3 linked regions of the Homo sapiens genome follow. The protein of the gene in region 2 purifies or fractionates together with the protein of the main gene of each other region. This does not show direct contact. Each region holds a gene or a part of one and is shown on either strand. Other genes may lie near its edges.

Region 1 (7,026 bases), on a different chromosome or scaffold from region 2:
CTGCCTCAGCCTCCCGAGTAGCTGGGACTACAGGCGCCCGCCACCACGCCAGGCTAATGTTTTTTTTGTGTGTGTATTTTTAGTAGAGACAGGGTTTCACGGTGTTACCAAGGATGGTCTCAATCTCCTGACCTCCTGATCTGCCCATCTTGGCCTCCCAAAGTGCTGGGATTACAGGCGTGAGCCACCACACCCGGCTGGGGCTTCCCTTTCAAAGCCATCCATCATCTCGTTTCCTTGTTGATTTTTTTAAGTAATAAATATTTATCTTAATTAGGACAACCAATGAATTTGCCATGTAATCAACACTGTCAGGTTCTTACCTATTAACAAGATCTTACTTAAATCTATAAGGCCCTTTAACACCAAGGTCTTTAAGGAGTTAGAATCTTTTAAAAATAATATTTAAATTTATTGTTTCACATTAGTTTGAATAAAGCACAAGCCAAGATGGTTTAAATATCATTTGCAGATGTCCAAGCTTCTTTACAATTACAGGTCATGGGCATCATCAACCTAGTCCTTGACTTGCAGCTAAAAAAGGCAAAAGGTCTGTGTGAAGTGACAGAAGAGCACACCCTACTCATGTCATGAGCAAGGAATCAAAGTCGAAGAACAGTAACAGTCTTGACATCAGCACTGTAAGAATTACTCTGCAGTAAACTCCAACCCAGAATGGGGAAGAATACTGAATTAGCTGAGCACATTCTGGACACAATTCTGACCAATTTCAGTCTCATGATCTCTGTTGGAGCAGGTTTCATTCTCCAATTCTCTTTTACAGAACAGCAGAACTCGAGCCTTCATAAAAGTGATTAACGGCCTTTCCGCTTCTTCATTTTTCCTCCAGCCACCTTGTTCCTGACACCAATAGCACCCTCTGTGTCATCATTATCTCCAGCATCCTCTCGCGAGCGTTTCTTCTTTTCTCCATGCTCCCTTAACTCCTGCAAGAAAAAAAGAGAGGATGGGATTGAAAATGAATTACTGGCACTGAAGGTTACTCATTCTAGTCCCCTCTCCTTAAGATCAAGTATCAAGTAACTTGCTGATGCCTGACATTAGCAAAGGAACAAGACCCAACTCCAAATATACAAAGATGTTAACCTTATTAGTAATCAAAACGTGAACACTAAAGTAAGGTTTTATTTTCACATGGCAGATTGGCAAAGACTTAAGAGAAGGGTAATCCCCAGTATTGGCCAAGGTGTAGAAAAATTCACATATACTCTCATTTATAGTGCAATCTGCTATAGCTTTTCTTGGGGCGGGGGACAATTTGGCATTCTGTATGAATTCAAATTTTAACTGTGTATGTCCCTTGGCCCAACAAGTGTACTTCTAGGAATTTATTCTAAGGAAGTAAATATGCAAAGCTGTACAAAGTAGGGTGTTTAACACTGTACCAAAGTAGAAAGAAACTGGAAAAAAGCGTAAGCATCCATGAATGTAAGTATTTCATACACATGATGGAATTCTTTGTAGCCATTAAGAAACGATCACATGAATCTGTATTTGTTGAAACAGAAAAATGTTAATCCTATATAATTAGATAAAGTCTAATTATGGCTAAAGAAAGAAAAATAGCCAAATGTTATCAATGGTTTTCTGTGGGGAATGGTTTACCTTTTCACTTACTACTTTAATCCTTTCTGTATTTTTTGAATTTTTTTCCCAATGCACATGTAATACTTTTACAAACAAAAAAATCCCATGTGGACAGAATAAAAACCAAATGTGCACCTCAGCTACTCCAAAAACAAACTATGGGCAAAGTTTCTCCATCCCTCAGACCAGAACTCCAGAAAGCAGGCAGCACTTCCAATGGTTTTCCTCTAGAATCTTCTCATCACCACTATTACTGTTACTACTACTTACAGGGTGAGTATCCCTTATCTGAAATGCTTGGGACCAGCAGTGTTTCGGACTTCAGATTTTTTCTAATTCTAGAATATTTGCAGATACATATGAGCTATCTTGGGGATGGGGCTCAACTCTAAACACAAAATTCACTTGTTTCATATATACCTTATATATGAAGGTAATTTTACACAATATTTTTAATTGTCTGAAGGTAATTTTACATCATATTTTTAATATTTTTGTGCATTAAAAACATTTTGACTGTGTCTTGATAGCAACCTGTCACACGAGGTCAGGCATGGAATTTTCCACTTGCGGCAATCCTTTTCGCACTCAAAAAATTTTGGATTGCTGGGCACAATGGCTCAAGCCTGTAATCCCAGCACTTTGGGAGGCCGAGGCGGGGGGATTACCTGAGGTCAGAAGTTCGCCTGACCAAAATGGAGAAACCCCATCTCTACTAAAAATACAAAATTAGCTGGGCATGGTGGCACATGCCTGTAATCGGGAGGCTGAGGCAGGAGAATCGCTTGAACCCGGGAGGCGGAGGTTGTGGTGAGCCGAGATTGCACCATTCGCTCCAGCCTGGGCAACAAGAGCAAAACTCCATCTCAAAAAAAAAAAAAAAAAGAAAAAAGAAAAGTTTTGGATCTTGGTTTTGGATTTCAAATTTTTGGATTAGGTATGATCAACCCCTACTAGTAACTATGTAGTTTATATTGGCTTCTCTGGTGCTCATAAAACCCCATAAGGTATTCAGGCAAGTGTTATTCCCAATTTACAGGTGAGAAACTGATTCTGATTCTGAGAAATCAGGCAAATTTCCCAAGCTCACACAGTTCACAGCTGGATCTTCTGACCTCAAGTCTGATGAACTATCTCACCACGTGCGACACATGAACAGGTGCTGTGAATGTGTGAATGTCAGAATGAGGCCAAACCTTGATTCAACCATTTGGTTGTATGGTCTAATGCAAATTACCTACCATCTCTGCACCTTAGTTTGCTCGTCTTAAATTTGGAATAAAATAATACCCAGCTTCTGCAGTTTAGTATGAGGGTTAATATAATAAAGTGGCACACAGTTAACATTGTTTGCACAGACACTGGTGAGAAAAGAAAGATGCATACCATTCGGGCAAACCTTTGGGCTTCAGCGACGCGTTCTGTCAGCATCATAACCTCATCATCCTGTGTTGGAAAACCTGGTAGTTTCTTCCCAATTAAGTGTTCTATGCGCTGGAAGAGTTCCACATCATACCTGAGGAAGGAAAACTGCACAGCTCTGGTTGCCTGGTAACGCAAATGCCTGTCCATTCCCAAACTATTATTATATGATACAACGCAATAGGAACCATAGGTTTAAACAATATTGAACATATTATTTCTTTTCTAAATATGGGTTAAGTGCAATCTCTGTGCATAGCCCATTAGAAAATCACTCAAGGGAGGCCAGGCATGGTGGCTTGCACCTGTAATCCCAACGCTTTGGGAGGTCAAAGCAGGAGAATCACTTGAGACCAGGAGTTCCAGACCAGCCTGGACAACACAGTGAGATGCCATCTCTATAAAAAATTAAAAATTAGCCAACCGTGGTGGCATGTGCCTGTAATCCCAGCCATTCAGGAGACTGAGGTATGAGGACTACTTGAGCCCAGGAGTTTGAAGCTGCAGTGAGCTATGATCAAGTCACTGCACTCCAGCCTGGTCAACAGAGTGAAACCTTGCTGCTTAAAAAAAGAAAAAGAAACAAAAATCGGCCAGGCAGGTGGCTTGTGCCTGTAATCCCAGCACTATGAGAGGCTAAGGCAGGTGGATCGCTTGAGCTCAGGAGTTCAAGACCAGCCTGGCCAACATGACAAAACCCTATCTCTACTAAAAATATTTTTTAAAAAGCCAGGTGTGCTGGCATGCACCTGTGGTCCCAGCTACTTGGGAAGCTATGGTGAGGTAGGAGGATTGCTTGAGCCCAGGGGGTGGAAGGTGCACTTAGCCAAGACTGCACCACTGCACTCCAGCCTAGGCGACAGAGCGAGACAAATACAAAAAAAAAAAGGAAAGGAGGGAGGGAGAAAATCCCTCAAGGTATTTATTCACAGAACAGCCTTGGGTACATAAAAATTTGTTTCTTTAAAAAAAACAATTGGAAATAGTTATTCTAATACTTTCTGAGTTGACACAAAGGCAATTGCTCTCCAGCTCTAGGTACCATTCTACATGCCAAATACTATACTAGATCTTTTACATATATAATCTCCAATTTTCACCAAAACCCTGCTAGATAGGTATTATTATTCCCATCTTTCAACTCCTTCATCCTGGTTTTCAGTATGAAAGTGATTAGTGTAGTAAATGGTAGTGTCAGGTTCTCAGCCAGTGGCTTGAAAGTTCTGCTCTTTTCTCTACATTGCTCGGCCCTAAAGCTGATTTACTTACTGTGTGACAAAAGTAATAGCCTTTCCGGAGCGCCCAGCTCTAGCTGTTCGACCTACTCGATGGATGTAATCCTAAAACAAAAAGGGTAAATAAATTCAAGTTATATGGATTATAAGTTTAAAAAAAACTACATATGCAAAGTCCTGCTGCAAAACCTTTGAAAGAAAATAGATTCATTTCGTAACATGGAGAAAATAAATGGCCGGGGCAATTTGTTGAGACAAATCTACTTCATCTTTTTTGTTCTCCTTGCAGCACAAAATTGATCCAATGCTTTCCCTTCTTTCACAGACAGATAAATCTACAAAGCATATCTACATGGTCGCAGGCTGCATGGTATTTTAAAAAACAGCACTGGATCTCGAGGCAGAGCTGGATTACAGCTCTGATCCTTCCCATCTGCCAGTTACACAATTACCTGCAAATCACATAACCTCTCTGAACCTTGGTTTCTATCTAGTGAACAGGAATAGAAATACATGCCCATATTACAGAGTTGTTATGAAAATCAAATGAGACAGCATCTTGTCTACAGCAGTTAAATACAAAGACAAGAGACACAACAGTTCTCATCCAGGGGTGATTCTGCCATCCTCAAGGGACACTGGTAATGTCTGGAAATATTTCTGATTATCACAGGTGGAAGACTGTGTGATGCTGTTATCTACTGGGTAAAGGCCAGGAATGCTACTAGGAATCCTTCAACTCAAAGAACAACCCCCACAACAAGGAATTCGAAAGCTTAAAATGTTAATAGTGCCAAGGCTGAGAAACCTTGAGATACACTAAGCACTACAAGCTGTAGGCCGGGCACGGTGGCTCACGCCTGTAATCCCAGCACTTTGGGAGGCCGAGGTGGGCAGATCACGAGGTCAGGAGATCAAGACCGTCCTGACTAACACGGTGAAACCCCATCTCTACTAAAAATACTAGCCGGGCGTGGTGGTGGGCGCCTGTAGTCCCAGCTACTCGGGAGGCTGAGGCAGGAGAATGGCGTGAACCCAGGAGGCAGAGCATGCAGTGAGCCAAGATTGCGCCACTGCACTCCAGACTGGGTGCAGACTCCACCTCAGAAAACTCAGAGCGAGACTCCGCCTCAAAAAAACTACAAGCTGTCATTCTCAAGAAATGACAGTGACAAGATCAGTATGTGGCGCACCAGCCCCTTCTATGAGCATCTAATAACTCTCCTTGGCTACCTCTTTCATATGTACTAATGTTACATACACAGGCCTGTGCAAGATGATGTGAATGAACTAACCAAGGGCTTTCTTGTTTTTTGATACTTAATTAACCAGGAACAAAATAACTGCTGTAACTAAGGAAAGACAGAAGACAGTCCATTAAGAAATACACTTTAGGACTAGAAAGGTAAGTTAGCAATAGGACTCACCTTGGAATGGGTAGGAATGTCAAAGTTGACAACCACATCTACATGAGGTATGTCCAAACCTCGGCTGGCAACGTCAGTTGCTAGAAGAATGGAACGGGCCTTGGCCTTAAACTTATTAAGGGATCCTAGGCGCTTACTCTGAGGTAATGAAAAAGAAATGTTGGAAAACTTAACCTATGTTTTGGAATACAAAACACAAAATAGACAAACACGAGAACAAACAGACATAAATTTTTTAAAGGTTTTTCCCCCTAAGTTTTGAATGGGGCTTCACAGGTCAAAACAGAAATATGGAAGCAACAAAAAATTAAAAAAATATATATGATACAAAATAAGGGTAGTTTGACACGATAGAAAGGTAACTGGGAAATAATTTATTAATGTTTTTAGAGGCCAGAGTCATTATTACCACTAGGGCTGAATAAATCAACTCAACAGCTTGCAAACCAGACAGGTACATATGAAATATTCTAATGGGAGCCTCTCGCTACCCTGAAAGGAGAAAGTAAGTATCTAGAGCAACACTTCAAAGCCCATAAAATTACAACAATTATGGAAACAGGCATCGGTGCCCTATGGCCTTATTGTACAAACCTACTGTTAGGAGGTTTATCTCGCTCACGCCACCAGTGCATGGCTGATGATGATGATGAATCCTTACCTGACTCATTTGTCCATGGAGGGGGATGGCAGTGAAGCCAAGATTTCGCAGTAGCAAAGCTGTTCTCTGGGTATTATTACAGGTGCTGCAGAATATCATAAAGGAGTTTCCAGCCAATTCATTTAGAATATAAACCAGGTAGGTATCCTAAGTTACAAACCCAAAACAATATATGTCATTGAACCTGGGAGACAGGATTGGAGACCTGGCATATACATAAGGTAAAGACTAAGCCTATAGTCGCTTTTCAATTATCCAGACCTCCAGCTGCCAGCTTTGCATTCCTTAACCAGCATTATCATCTCTGTGAACCACATATTCCCCACTTAGCCTTAAGGCAGGCAGGAGATCTGTACTCAGCAAACAGGAGAAGTCCTTATATCAAAGCACAAAACCAGGGGCTTCATCCTAAATAAAAGCCACATAATAAGCAGACAAAGGAAAAATTACCTCAAGGATGGGGATGGGAAGGAATTATATGATTACATCATGACCTCAGTATTGTGATTTAATGTGTTGTGAATTCCTGGCATGTCTGGCTTATCGGTGATAATATAAGCACGATATGCACTCTAAAGCAAACAGACAGGATGCCAATCTGCATTACAGCTCTTACCTAATCAAGAGTTGACACATTTTCAGATGCTTTGGTGAAAAGAAGAGGGAGAGGCAG
Region 2 (7,026 bases):
CAGCATGAACAGCCTGTCTTCCCACCCAGGCTAACCCCAGCAATCTCAGCCTTCCCCACTCCTCACAGAATTCCCTGTCTCCCTGGCCTAGGCACCTGTGCCGAAGAAGGGACAGGAAGGAGAGATCCAGTGGAATCATTTTATTTCAGTTCCCCCACCCAGACACTGGCTCAGACACTCCACCTATCATTCTGCCTCTTGGGACCTCCTTGTTCCTTACACGCCCTGAGTTGTATGGGACTGCAAAGTCGAGCCTGTGGCCCTCCCTGTGCACTCAATGGCCTTTGCAGAGAGAGCTCCTGGGCCCAGGGCTCTTGGCTGGGCCTGATCCTCTGCTTTCACCCTCACCCTTGCCCTCACGGGAGTCACGGAGCAGCCACAGGCTCCTGCACTAGTGCGAGTCCCCAGCTTAGGGCCTGCTTTGCTTCTCTTTTAGACACTCATCACTTTCGTGAACAAGCACCTGAATAAACTGAACCTGGAGGTCACAGAACTGGAAACCCAGGTGGGTGACAGACCCCAGCACAGGTAGAGGCAGGGCCCTGCCCTACAGCCCCTGTTCCAAGTGGCCCACCACACTTGGCCAGGAGGGCTTTCCCAGCTGAGGGGGATGAGGGCATGGGAATCTGTCCTACTCTGAGGGGTGGACTGAGTCTCTGTGGATTTTTTCCAACTTTTTATTATGAAAATTACAAGAATGAATACTCATATACCCTTCACTGGGATGCACCGATTGTTAATATTTGGCCACACCTCTCTCTCTTTCTCTGCACCCCTAAATGCTTGAGCATATGTCTCTCAAGAACAAGCACATTCTCTTAGGTAACCACAACACAATTATCAAAGGCAGGCAGTTTTAACATAATACATTAATCTGTTTAGATTGAATCATATGAAATTGCTGACATTCGACTGTTTTTGTTTTCTGTTTTGTTTTGTTTTTTGAGATAGAGTTTCACTCTTGTTGCCCAGGCTGGAGTGCAGTGGCAAGATCTCGGCTCACTGCAACCTCTGCCTCCCAGGTTCAAGCGATTCTCCTGCCTCAGCCTGCCAGGTAGCTGGGATTACAGGCATGCGCCACCAAGCCCGGCTAATTTTTTGTATTTAGTAGAGACGGGGTTTCACCATGTTGGTCAGGCTGGTCTCAAACTCAGACCTCAGGTGATCCACCCACCTTGGCCTCCCAAAGTGCTGGGACTATAGGCATGAGCCACCGCACCCAGCTGACTGTTCTTAACCTACTAAAATGGCAACATCATGTGGTTAGAAAAAACACTCTGTTCAGATTTTGCCAGTTGTCCAGTTTGCTCACATGCTGCATTTACTTGTCATGTCTCTTTAGTCTCTTTTTAACGTAGAACAACTCCTCGGCCTTTCTTGTTGTGGCACTGACACTTTTTGAAGTGTTCAGGCCAGTTGGTTTATAGACTGTCTTTTCTGCACATATTAGATTCAGGTCATGCATTTTCATTAACAGCACGTCCCAAGTAAGGCTGTGTTCTTCCCGGGGCATCCCAGGAGGAGGCACTCTGTCCATTAGTCCCACTGCTAGTGATAACTTGGATTATTTGGTTAGGATGGTGTTCACCGGATTTCCCTATTATAAAGTTATTTTTCCTCTCTTTATACTTAACTAATCTTTATTGGGGAGATATTTTGAGCCTGATGAATCCTGTTTCCCCACCTCCTTTCATTCTTGGTGAGCTTCTGCCTTATACTTCTCTTTCAGTCATCTGGGTACCTCCTTTTATTTTAAAGACAAATGCCAGCCTGTCGCTGAGCTCCACCTGAGTGTGTCTAGACTGTGTGAAATGAGCTTCATGTACTCTTGTAGGAAATAAGGAATGTTCTGGAAAAGTGACGCTTCCTTGAGTGAGCTAGAATGGGCCCTGGAATGATCAGCTCCGTTTTCAAGGGCAGGGAGTGCTATGACAGGGGTCACTGCCAAGCACTTTGGGTCTCTACAGTTTTATCTACTATTCCTACCAAGTCAGTGGAACCAGCCATGGGAGGTGAGGAGCAGTCTAAGCCTGGCACTCAGAGCTGTGAATGACCCCAACCCTAACCCAAGGTCACCCCTGAGCTCACAGATTGGATTCTTTTACTCCTAACTCCTTCTCACCACAGCTTGAATGAAGCCCAGTTGCTCAGCTCCCACCAGAAGGGCCTTGATTTTGACAGACTCTGGGGTCTGCTCTCCCGTGTCCACCTAGGGTGAGTCATGCTCAGGCCGTTCCCACCTGAGTTGCAGGCCTGATGGATAGAAGCTGGGAGGAGCTACCCTTTTGTTTTTGAGACAGGGTCTTACTCCTGTCATGCAGGCTAGAGTGCAGTGGCACGATCACGGCTTACTGCATCCTCAACTTCCCAGGCTCAGGTGATCCTCCCACCCCAGTCTCCTGAGCAGCTGGGACTACAGGCATGCACCAACATACCCGGTTAATTTTTTTGTATTTTTAGTACAGACAGGGTTTCACCATGTTGCCCAGGCCAGTCTGGAACTCCTGAGCTCAAGCGATCCGCCTGCCTCAGCCTCCCAAAGTGCTGCGATTACAGGCATGAGCCACCGCACTCGGCCAGAAGCTGCCTTTAAGGCAAGCGCAAGCTCAGGGTCTTGTGCCCTTAATGACGGCTGAGCCGCAGGCCGGCTAGCTGGCTACCTGGAAAGCTCTCTGAGCAGACTCTGGGCTCCTAAGGTGATTCCAAGAAATGTGGCCTTCTCTAAACCCCAGCAGCTATATACACTCATAAACATTTGGTGGCCCAGCCTCCTTTGAAAGGGTTCTAGAATGTCGGATGTGCATCTGACCTCTATGTCTTTGCTAGGCCATCCCCCCTACCTGGAACCCCCTACTCCTCCCAAGGTCCATCATCCCCGGCCTCCACAAGCCTGTCCTGAGCCCTCAGTGTATGCTCACTTCACCCAGCCCTAAGCAGAAGACCAGCAGCCTCCGCACTTAGCTGAGGGACTCTCCTGTCCCTTGGGCCTGGTTTCCCAACCCATCTGGCCTCTTCTGCCTAGGAAGGGACCGGGCTGCAAGCCTCCTGCCAGGGCCCTCAGCACATAGTTCTGCTTTTGCCAGCAAGAGCAAGTAAGTCATGTCCTGATTGCTTTGTTGTTTTCCCAGACAGTAATAGCAACATTTAATATTTATTCAATGCTACATGCCTAGCAGTTTACAGGCCCTCTCTGCATATTTAACTGGCTTAGTCCTCACGATAACTCTGTGACATAGATACTATTCTATTACCATCCCTGTTTTACAGATAAGACATATGAGTACAGAGAAGTGACATAACTTGCCCAAGGCATATAGCTAGTAGGTGAGAGAGCTGGAATTTGCACCTGGGAGGCCTGGCCCCAGAGCCCACATTCATAACAGCTGCACTCTGCTGCTGTAATACTGAAGAGAGATGGGAGAAAGAATGCCCAGCCCTGTGTGACACTAGTCCTTTCTCTGTTCAGAAAGCACAGATCTCCCCAGGAACCTCATGCCATTCACCTTGGACATCACCTCCCCCTCCTCCCTCTGTCCCACTCTAGCCAATCCTGCTCATCCTCAGCTCTCCACTCAGGCTCTGTCCCCTCCAGAAGACTCCTCTGATGCCTTCAGTGCTTGTGGGCGACCTTTCTCAACCTCACTCAGGCCAGCGAGCTTCCTTCCATCAGAGCAGCTGTGCCTTGCCCCCACACCAGTTTCCCTATTAGACTGTGTACTCCTCCAGGGCAGGAGCCACACTGACCACCCCCCACCCCCCACCCCCCACCATGCTCTGGTCCCCATGCCTAGACCAGGAGTTGGTACACAGCCTCTGTTCAGTAAATGCTGGGTCAGCTGAGATCAGGGCCTGGGCTTGTGGCTCCTGTGCCAGCCAGACGTGGGGCAGAGCAGACCTCCTTGTCTCGGGCCACTGCCCCTACCCCCGAGCTAGCAGCCTGGCTGGGGTGGTAGGCTTCAGGTGGCATAGCACAGAAGTTGATGGGCCCCCTGGATGGGGATTGGCTGGGAGGCTCAGGGGCCAGTGCCATCACCTGGCTCTTCCTCCAGTTTGCAGATGGGGTGTACCTGGTGCTGCTCATGGGGCTCCTGGAGGGCTACTTTGTGCCCCTGCACAGCTTCTTCCTGACCCCGGACAGCTTTGAACAGAAGGTAAGGAGAAGGGACATCAAGGGAGGCCCCCTAGCCCACATCCCCTGACTCATGTGCCCACACCCATGCTGGGGCTATCCAGAAAAAAGGCAGAAGCTTCCCCTCTGCTCAACGTCTTCAGTGCCTGGAGGTGGGACCCATTATAAGAGCTGAGCTGGGAAGGAGCTACCTGCAGACCACTGGGCATCCCTGACTGCCTTTCCCTTGCCCTGAAGCCTGGCCCGGGTCCCCTGCCCTGTGTCCCTGTCAAGTGCCCCAGCCCAGCCTCCTCTCTCCCCAGAGATGACAAGGAAAGTGACTGTGAAGCTGGTCAGCCCTGAGGCTCATGCTTAGCCTGGTTCTGATGGCCTCTCGTAGGCTGCCACATCCTGCTCGCTACACAAAGGCATTTGACCAGAAAGCCTGCTCTGCCTGTTGAACATGTCCTGCCATCTGATTCTTCCAGACGTGTGCACTGACACCCCCAATTTGAAGTCCTGGCAGTTTACACAGGAACACAGTAGGATATGAAGGGAGTTTTGTGCTTCTCCAGGAGTGCTTCTCCCAACAGCAAGCTAGGATCAGCTAGCTCACGCTCCAGGTGGCCTGCCCATTTTGGTAGCCATATTTCTCCTTGAAATTAGTTCAGCCTCTGTCCCTCTGGCTACAGTGCTGGGCTCCTTCACTTCCCAGGGCCAGGTCCTGGGGCTCCTGGGTGTGCAATGGTACATGCTGTCTGCATCTCTCTTGCCAGGTCTTGAATGTCTCCTTTGCCTTTGAGCTCATGCAAGATGGAGGGTTGGAAAAGCCAAAACCGCGGCCAGAAGGTACTTTGCTCTTTCCTGGGTTTGTGACAACAGAGTGAGACCCTCTCCCTGCACATGAGTACTCAGATTTTGTAGCAGAGGGAAGCATTTTCTGAAGCCTTCGTTGCTGGGGAAGGTGGGACTCGGTGCAGCTGCTCAGTCCCAGAGACCCTTTGTGAGCTGCCAGCTGCACAGCCAGGGGAAGAAAAGAATCTGAAATCCCACACATGCCATGCGTGGGATCGCGGGGATCAGGGACCGAGCAGAACTGCTGCTGCAGGAACTGCCCTGTGCCCAATTTCCAGGTTTTCCTGTCCCTGCACAGGGTGCTGACCTGCCAAAGAGCTGTGTCCCCGCCAGTCGGGGTGAAGGTGCAGCGCAGACAGTTCTGGGCTGAGCAAAACTGCTTCTCTCCTTACAGATGCGGAGCTCTGCCTGCTCAGACTCTGTCTGAGGACAGGCCATGATTTGTGGGGTTTGGGTTGTAAATATAAGTCTGAGGGGAAATGCAGAAGGGACAAGTGCTTCTGCAGCCCCTGCATACTCCTGCTAGGAGTGCACACGTGCATTCGTGAGCAGAGGAGGCACGCTTCTCTTAGTAGTCTTGGTACGGATGATTGCTTTCTGCCCCTTACTGACTGAAGTATTCCATTTCACCAGAGCTGGCAGGTCACCACTGTGTTGCAGATAATCTCCTGCATATGTCCCCTGGGAACACTGAGAATGCCATCTGTGGCCCTTTTGCTCGCACTTTTCTGGTAGTTTATAGGCAAGTGGATGAGTAGGAATGGTGGGCTCTCATGCCCCCTTCCTGCCTCTGCTCTGAGCTCCTCTATCCAAACCCCCACCTAGTGGGGGCCATGCCCTGGTCTAGTGGGCTTGAGACCCTGTAGACCATGATATAACAAGAGGGGTAAGACCTTCCTGAACCTCAAGGCACGTGTAGCCAACCAGGGAAGAGAAAAGTTGGAGCCAGTTAGCAAAATGAAATGACAGTCATGGGAACTGTTACGAAAGAGGTACAAGGAAGAGTCTGTGAGGACTGAGGAGGTGATACCACTTCTGTCTTGGGGGAGGAACAGTTTGATGGAGACAGTGGGGCTCAACCATAAGGACCAGGTAGGGCTTTGGTGTATGGAGACTGGGAGAGAAGTGTGTGCATGCCAGACAGAATGACAGCATGAGCAAAAGTCCCCCCGGGGAAGAATGGGGACCCTGTCTCATGACTCCTTCCAGACTCGTTATCTATTGACTCTAGCCAACAAAGGTCAACTCCTGTTCTCATTTATTACCACCTTGTCCTAAGCCCCTGGTCAACTGAGACCTGGGGGAGGACCTCTAGCAAGGCTGGTGTCCCCCTGGGGCTCTCTCTTTGGCAAGGCCACTCCAGCCTTCCTAATGCCATTAGGAATGGACTCTTCTTGTTCTGTGGGCAGATGATGAGCACCCTGCTTCTGGGAGGACAGACACAGTGAGAAAGTTCCGACCATCATTTTGCTTCCACTTTCTTCAACCACTTAATATGAAACTTCCTGGTTACAGATTGGAAGTACTTCTGCTATTTTAGAATTGGGATATTTCTTTCCCTTGGGACAGATAATTTTCCCAATATAAATCAATCTATGGGAATATTTTGGAATATAGGTGATATTTTTATGCAATTATTAAGTTGCTGAATGTGAAACTAACAGACTGATGTGGATGGAAAAACACGTGTTTTATTTGTTATGACACAGGGCATTATGCCCATGCTGCAAATTTCCAGTACGTAAAGGGGAATGGAAATAGCATTTTATGAAATTGTACTTTGAAAGAAGTGAATCCCAGCATTCCGTCTGGTTTTTATGCTTCTACCTGGAAAGTGAGATTTGGAAGTAAATGATGCAGACATTTCAAAGGGTGCCAATGTGGGTAATTCTTTGAGGGCATTTCAAAATCAAACTGGTTGTGGTGGAGGCATTTTTCATGGCAACATGTTTTTAAGGTCAGGAAAATGCATTCTCTGCTGTGCTGTTTAACACTCAAAGCTCTGTTGTGCCTTGAAATCCCCTAGAAACTGGGTTTGTATCTGAGATGACTTGCTGCCCAGG
Region 3 (7,026 bases), on a different chromosome or scaffold from region 2:
TTGAAAGTGCCCAGAAAATTCCTGTCATCTTCACATTAAATCTGCTTTTCCTTTTGCAGATTTAATGTGAAAATTCAGGAGGCCGGGCACAGTGGCTCATGTCTGTAATCCCAGCACTGTAGGAGGCCAAGGCGGGTGGATCACCTGAGGTCAGGAGTTTGAGACCAGCCTGGCCAACATGGTGAAACCCCCGTCTCCACTAAAAAATACAAAAATTAGCTGGGTATGGTGGTAGGCACCTGTAATCCCAGCTACTTGGGAGGCTGAGGCAGGAGAATCGCTTGAACCCAGAAGGCAGAGGTTACAGTGAGCCAACATAGTGCCACTGCACTCCAGCCTGGGCAACAAGAGTGAGACTCCATCTCAAAAAAAAAAAAGAAAAAAAAAAAGAAAAGAAAAAATTCAGGATATCCTTTATCCAGGTGCTTGGATAAAAGTTTATTGAGTTCAGGCCGGGCGTGGTGGCTCACGCCTGTAATCCCAGCACTTTGGGAGGCCGAGGCAGGTGGATCACGAGGTCAGGAGATCGAGACCATCCTGGCTAACACAGTGAAACCCCATCTCTACTAAAAATGTAAAAAATTAGCCAGGTGTGGTGGCAGGCGCCTGTAGTCCCAGCTACTCGGGAGGCTGAGGCAGGAGAATGGTGAGAACCTGGGAGGCGGAGGTTGCAGTGAGCCAAGATTGTACCACTGCACTCCAGCCTGGGCGACAGAGCAAGACTCCGTCTCAAAAAAAAAAAAAAAAAAAAAAAAGTTTGTTGAGTGCCTACTGTATTTCACTGTGCCAAGCAATTAACCATCACAGCAGCTCTGTAAGATGCATAGCGTTCCCATTCTGCAAAGGACAAATTTGGGCTCACTCCCTGACGTTAAGCAACTTGCAAAACCAGAATCAGAACTCACACCTGCCAAAACAGAAAGTCTGATTCTTTTCACTGTGGCAAGATATCTCAACATTCAAGATTTTCAAAGAAATTTTATTCATACTTTTGAATTTCTATTTTACTTAATTATTCGTACTATGAGAATATAGAGCCACATGACTTTTCTTAATAATAATGGGTACTAACTAGTTCAACTCTTTACATTTCTTAATTTTAAATTTTGCTAGGCTGGGTGCAGTGGCTCACGCCTATAATCCCAGCACTTTGCGGGGGCCGAGGCGGGTGGATCACTTGAGGTCAGGAGTTGGAGACCAGCCTGGCCAACATGGTCAAACCCCATCTCTACTAAAAATACAAAAATTAGCCAGGCATGGCAGTGGGCACCTGTAATCCCAGCTACTCGGGAGGGTGAGGAAGGAGAATCGTTTGAACCCGGGAGGCAGAGGTTGTGGTGAGCCCAGATCGCACCACTGCACTCCAGCCTGGGCAACAGAGCGAGACTCCGTCTCCAAAAAAAAAAAAAATTTTTTTTGCTAAATTTTCAGCTACATGGTAGGGTAAAAAGCTTTCGGCAGCCACATTAGGAATGAATACTCCCCATTTGCAACAGTGTTACAATACAGAAAAGCACTCAGCTTCAACCACTTTTAATAAATACACTTTTAAATGCAACCCACTTCTTATGGTGGAGCCTGTCCAAGGCCGTTGCACTAAATTAATATCCGAAAAAAGAATGGAGGTTTATTCTTAAAATAGTGTATGTCACCATTTTAAGAGTTAAGAATAAATCTCACCCCATACTTCCCCTTGGTAATTATAAATAAATGAATGGATCAGCTCCTAGTGCCACCGTGCCATTACGCAGCTACATGCTATGGTCCTTTAGTCACACTGGGTCTCATGAGATAACTAGACTTCTCATCTGTACAAAGAGAGCTTGGGTCACCATCCTAAAAATGATCCCCCTCAAAATTTAAGTGATGCTCCTCATTTTGAGAATTCTAGAAGTGCTGGGCATGATATTCTTCCTAGTCACCTCACCTACCCATTTTGTTTTCTTGCTTCTTAAATGTCTTAACTTCTATTTTCATGATCCCAGGGTGCCAGCCTGGACATATCCCAACATTCATGGAATTCTGAAATCACTTACAGGGAGAGGAGATCTGAAGAGCCCATCCCAGAAAATGCTCTATGCCAACAGTAAAGACATATGCACAAAAAAGACTTTGTTCCCAAGAACTAATTTCTTTCCAAGATACCTTTTCAATTCCTCTAAATTACAGAAAGTGACATACTTCTACTTAGTGCTAAGCTCGACTTATCACCGTGGAGTTGCTGACAGTCTCCAACCAGCCAGCGTTCCTACCTTCCCTTCTACAAGAGGGGTGTGCCCTATTCCTTGAGCTAGGGTACGGGCACTCAGCAGCAGAAAGGTGGCCCATGACAGACTTGAAAGCGCACACCAGGAATTGTCTGAAACTCAGAGAATGCTGGAATTAACTTTCTTCCTGTGACCTTTAACCTAGCTGAATTTTCTTCCATTTCCAGTACTAATCGTACTTTCTTCTCACTTGCAGAATTCCCTGTTCTGTCCTGCCTGACACGTTCTCTTCTTGGTTCTTTTCACCTGAACCTTATTCTGATCTGTTACTTCCTCCTGTCCAAGACCTAAGCACTGAACATACCTCACATATTTAAATGTTACCTCCTTCAACTGAGTGAAACGGTATTCATTGCTCCTATACAACTGCTCTTTAGCCGGCCGGGCGCAGTGGCTCACGCCTGTAATCCCAGCACTGTGGGAGGCCAAGGCGGGCGGATCACGAGGTCAGGAGATCAAGACTATCCTGGCTAACACGGTGAAACCCCGTCTCTACTAAAAATACAAAAAATTAGCCAGGCGTGGTGGTGGGCGCCTGTAGTCCCAGCTACTCGGGAGGCTGAGCCAGGAGAATGGCGTTAACCTGGGAGGCGGAGCTTGCAGTGAGCCGAGATAGCGTCATTGCACTCTGGCCCGGGCGACAGAGCGAGACTCCGTTTCAAAAAAAAACAAAAAAACAAAAAAAACCCCGCTCCTTAGCCTAAACAAATGTAAAACTCAATAAGAACAGGCAAAAGGATAAAAATAAGCTTCAATTTAAGCATAAATAATAATTTAAGATGTATCCTTGATCTATTGTGCAGCCCTTAGCAAAAAGCCTTGAATCGTTAGGTGATATCTCATTAGAACAGCGGCTTAATTTCAATATTGAAGCTGCTCTCCAAACAATGAAGAAAAGCAGAAATCTCTACATTTTCTATTTCTCAACCACTCCCAGTGCTCATTTATAGGAATTACCCCTAAATTTTCCCAGTTAACCTTTCAGGGAAACACAAACCCACAGCCACAGAAAACTTTCGTCTCTCTACACTTATACTCTCTTACTTATACTCACTGCCTCTACACAGTCATATTCACTCTCTACACACTCCTCTCTTTTCCCAAGAAAGAGCTCTGTTACAGGCAGAGGAGAAAATGGAGTGCCCTAGGATACACAATGGGGCCACTGTACTAAAAGGTGGAGCTTTTAGTAGAAGTAGAGGTATTATAAATAGAACTGAAGAGGGGAAGCTTTTCTCCCTCCAATCTCTATGATCTTTATTCCTGGCCTTAGAGTTACTGTAAATCCCAGATATTGGGGCTCCTCCAACTTGGGAGGGGTGGAGGTTATGGAGGAAACAGGATGGAACCAAACCAAAAAGGCAAACTGGGTCTAGCGCTAGAGGGGAAAGAGGGGCCCTCGGAACACACAAGATACAGGCCGGTTCACCAAGGTAGGAGAAAGAACTGGAAGAGGTTAATAGCTCACTAATAACGAAGAGCATGCCATTTGTCCTTGGTGCACTCACAACACTTTTTAGGGGTGGCAGCAGCCACATAGGTGGCTGACAGGGATTCTAGTCCTCTTTTCTCACCATAACATTCCCAGGCTTCTTTCCTTTGTCCTCTCTAGTTTACAATCTAAATAGGTGCTTCCAACCTTGATTTTTTAAAATCAAAGCCTTAAACAACAACAAAAATCACCACACCCAGTTTTATGATTGCCTCCATAAAATAGACCAGGCACCTTTCCATGATGCCAGGCCAATGGGCAGGGTGTGCTAGGGTAATATGCCACTATTATGCCCTCCCTTAAAAAAAAAAAAAAAAACCTGAAGATCATCACAAATGTCTCCACTGCCTTTTTTTTTTTTTTTTTTTTTTGAGACAGAGTTTTACTCTTGATGCCCAGGCTGGAGTGCAATGGCACTGTCTCAGCTTACCGCAAGCTCTGCCTCCCGGGTTCAAGCAATTCTCCTGCCTCAGCCTCCCGAGTAGCTGGGATTACAGGCACCCGCCACCACGCCCGACTAATTTTGTATTTTTAGTAGAGACGGGGGTTTCTCCATGTTGGTCAGGCTGGTCTCGAACTCCCGACCGCCAGGTGATCCGCCCACCTCAGCTTTCCAAAGTGCTGGGATTACAGGCGTGAGCCACCGGGCCAGGTCAGTTACTCCTTAAGTATGCAAAAGCACTCAACAAAAAAACACCTCAGGGGATCATGCCTGCTGGGTGGTCTTTAAAGGAAATGGGCTACTTTCCTATACTGGAAAAAAACACCTGACAGAAAAAAAGACGCTCTAGAGTAGCTGAAAATAAAATGCCTGGCTAATGCAGAACCTGATGAAGAAATAGGATGAAGTGTAACATTCTACTGAGGTCATGATATCCCAGCATAAGGCAGAGTTTTAAATCTTGTTTCTCAACAGGGGGAGGAGTGGGGGCCAAGGAAGGAGCATCGGAATCACTAGAGACATTTAAAATACAGTCGGCCCTCCTTATCCATGGGTTCTGCATCCATGGATTCAACAAACTATGGATCAAAAACAGTCAGAAAAAAATAAAGAAAGATATAAATAAAACAATACAGTGTAACAACTATTTATGTAGCATTTACATTGGATCAGGTATGATAAGTAATCTAGAGATATATCTAGAGTAATCTAGAGGTATGATAAGTAATCTAGAGATGTTTTCAAGTATATATTATGCAATGTGCTAAGGTTATATGCAAATACTATGCCATTTTATATAAGGAAGTTGAGCAACTGTGGATTCTGATATCTGCAGGTGTCCTGGAACCAAACCCCCACAGATACCAAGGGACTACTATGTGTCTGGATCTCCCACCCCGACCTACTGAACCACAATCTCTATGGTAGGGCCCAGATAGGTGTATTTTTTTTTTTTTTTAAGTTCCCCAGGTGATTCTAATGCACACACCTGGTTAACAACCATAGTTAAAAAAATGATGAGGCCAGGCACAGCAGCTCACGTTTGTAATTCCAGCACTTTGGGAGGCTGAGACGGGCGGATCACCTGAGGTCAGGAGTTTGAGACCAGCCTGGCCATTATGGTGAAACCCAGTCTCTACTAAAGATACAAAAATTAGCCAGGCGTAGTGGCGGATGCCTGTAATTCCAGCTACTCAGGAGGCTGAGGCAGGAGAATCGCTTGAACCCGGGAGGTGGAGGTTGCAATGAGCCAAGATTGCGCCACTGCCCTCCAGCCTGGGCAACAGAGCGAGACTGTACAAAAAAAAAAAAAAAAAGATAGAAACATTCTTCAATCAAGAAAACTACAAGTAGACCAAAAAACTCAGGCTTCAGTTTCTTCATTAAATGAGATGGTTGAACTAGATTAGCAGTTGAACTAGTTATTGGTAGTGTTTGGGGGAGGGGAGGTGTTAGCCAAAACACCCTCTGTAACAAGTGAATTTTATTCAAGAAATTCAACAGTAAAACAAAAGCAGAGCTACTTTGGATGGGGGAAGGAAGGTGTGTTGAAGCTCTTCCCTCTCACCCCCAGGTCACCTCAGTGGAATCACCAAAGCTCCACAGAGCACAAGATGGTCTCTCAGAACAGCTGCAGCTTCCAAATTCTTTGACCTTCCAAACCTTGAAATCCACAATTTAAATGGCAGAGATCTTACAGTTTTTGTTTTCTTATAAACTTCATATGAGAAAATGCCCCCTTTTCTAGTGATATAGCATGCCTTGCTATGTCATCTTCTATTATTTAGAAAGACAAGTGTTATCCTCCTCACTTAAGTCATCACTGAAACCCAAGCTCCAGTTTCCTGGAAGTTTTAAGCTCAGAAAAGAAGCCTAGACACAAGAGGGCATGCAAAATACAGGTTAGTGTTTGCCCCAGGAGAAGGAAGAATGGGACCAGAGGGGCACAAAAAAGACTTTAAATGTAGCGATGTTGGTTTTGTTTTGTTTTGTTTTTAGAGGAAAGGGAAATATCTCAAATGTTAACATTTGTTAGTTCTGGAATACAATGATGTTTGTTGTACTGTTCTCTGGACTTTCTTGTAGCATTTTAAGATTTTCAGAATTAAAATACACACATACACACACACTTGTTTATTAGCACCACTTCAAACACCCTTTTTATTAAACGTTAATTACAAATATTTCATTATCCCTCACTTGACTTTTCCACCAAAGCTCACTTATAGAATACATGATCTATAATTACATCTACCCTGGGACTCTGCAAAAGAACACAAGCACCAGAACAAAAGAAATGAATCACTGATAACAAAATGACACTCTAAAATTAAGACCACAAGGTTGTGGGGCATCTGAAAAAGGAAAAGAGCAGCTTTACATTCACTTCACAAAGAATGCAGAGGATGCTGACTCTGAATATTGCCAAACAGATGGACCTACACCAACAGCACCACGCTTCTAAGCCTCCCAAACCAAGCAGCCACTCCGCAGGTCATAGGAGGAGGAGACTCAATTCATATATAAATCAAAATTCATGAAGCATAAGTGAAACATTAAAGCCAATAACTTCAAATCCTAAAAATGCTATTTCCACCCCACAGTTGGTAACGCCCAAAACATGCACAATAAGCATAAGACTGAACAATAGAAACCTGGAAAACCGTTCAGTACACTTAAATGCCCATCACAGTGATTCATGATAAACTCTCATCAAGGCTACTTATTGCCATAAATAAATACCCTACCTATACTTATTCCCTCAACCACCAGCTTCCCAGTTACATCTATAACATACTCAAATAAATCTTTTCTTTTTTTTCCCC

The links. Proteins that work in one complex are often made in the same cells at the same time.
Region 1: the proteins of PARVA (region 2) and DDX47 purify together in Homo sapiens (affinity purification with mass spectrometry; 2 studies listed by BioGRID and IntAct, with this or other methods). This does not show direct contact.
Region 3: the proteins of PARVA (region 2) and IQGAP1 purify together in Homo sapiens (affinity purification with mass spectrometry; 3 studies listed by BioGRID and IntAct, with this or other methods). This does not show direct contact.

The regions. Positions count from the first base shown.
Region 1 is NC_000012.12:12,823,344-12,830,369, reverse strand, and holds the end of DDX47 (probable ATP-dependent RNA helicase DDX47), read right to left. Parts: intron 6,501-7,026; coding exon 6,354-6,500; intron 5,831-6,353; coding exon 5,693-5,830; intron 4,371-5,692; coding exon 4,300-4,370; intron 3,125-4,299; coding exon 2,995-3,124; intron 948-2,994; coding exon 816-947; 3' UTR 389-815; downstream 1-388. UniProt on the Homo sapiens protein: Required for efficient ribosome biogenesis. May have a role in mRNA splicing. Involved in apoptosis.
Region 2 is NC_000011.10:12,513,561-12,520,586, forward strand, and holds part of PARVA (alpha-parvin), read left to right. Parts: intron 1-436; coding exon 437-505; intron 506-4,049; coding exon 4,050-4,151; intron 4,152-4,884; coding exon 4,885-4,957; intron 4,958-7,026. UniProt on the Homo sapiens protein: Plays a role in sarcomere organization and in smooth muscle cell contraction. Required for normal development of the embryonic cardiovascular system, and for normal septation of the heart outflow tract.
Region 3 is NC_000015.10:90,391,240-90,398,265, reverse strand, and holds part of IQGAP1 (ras GTPase-activating-like protein IQGAP1), read right to left. Parts: intron 1-7,026. UniProt on the Homo sapiens protein: Plays a crucial role in regulating the dynamics and assembly of the actin cytoskeleton.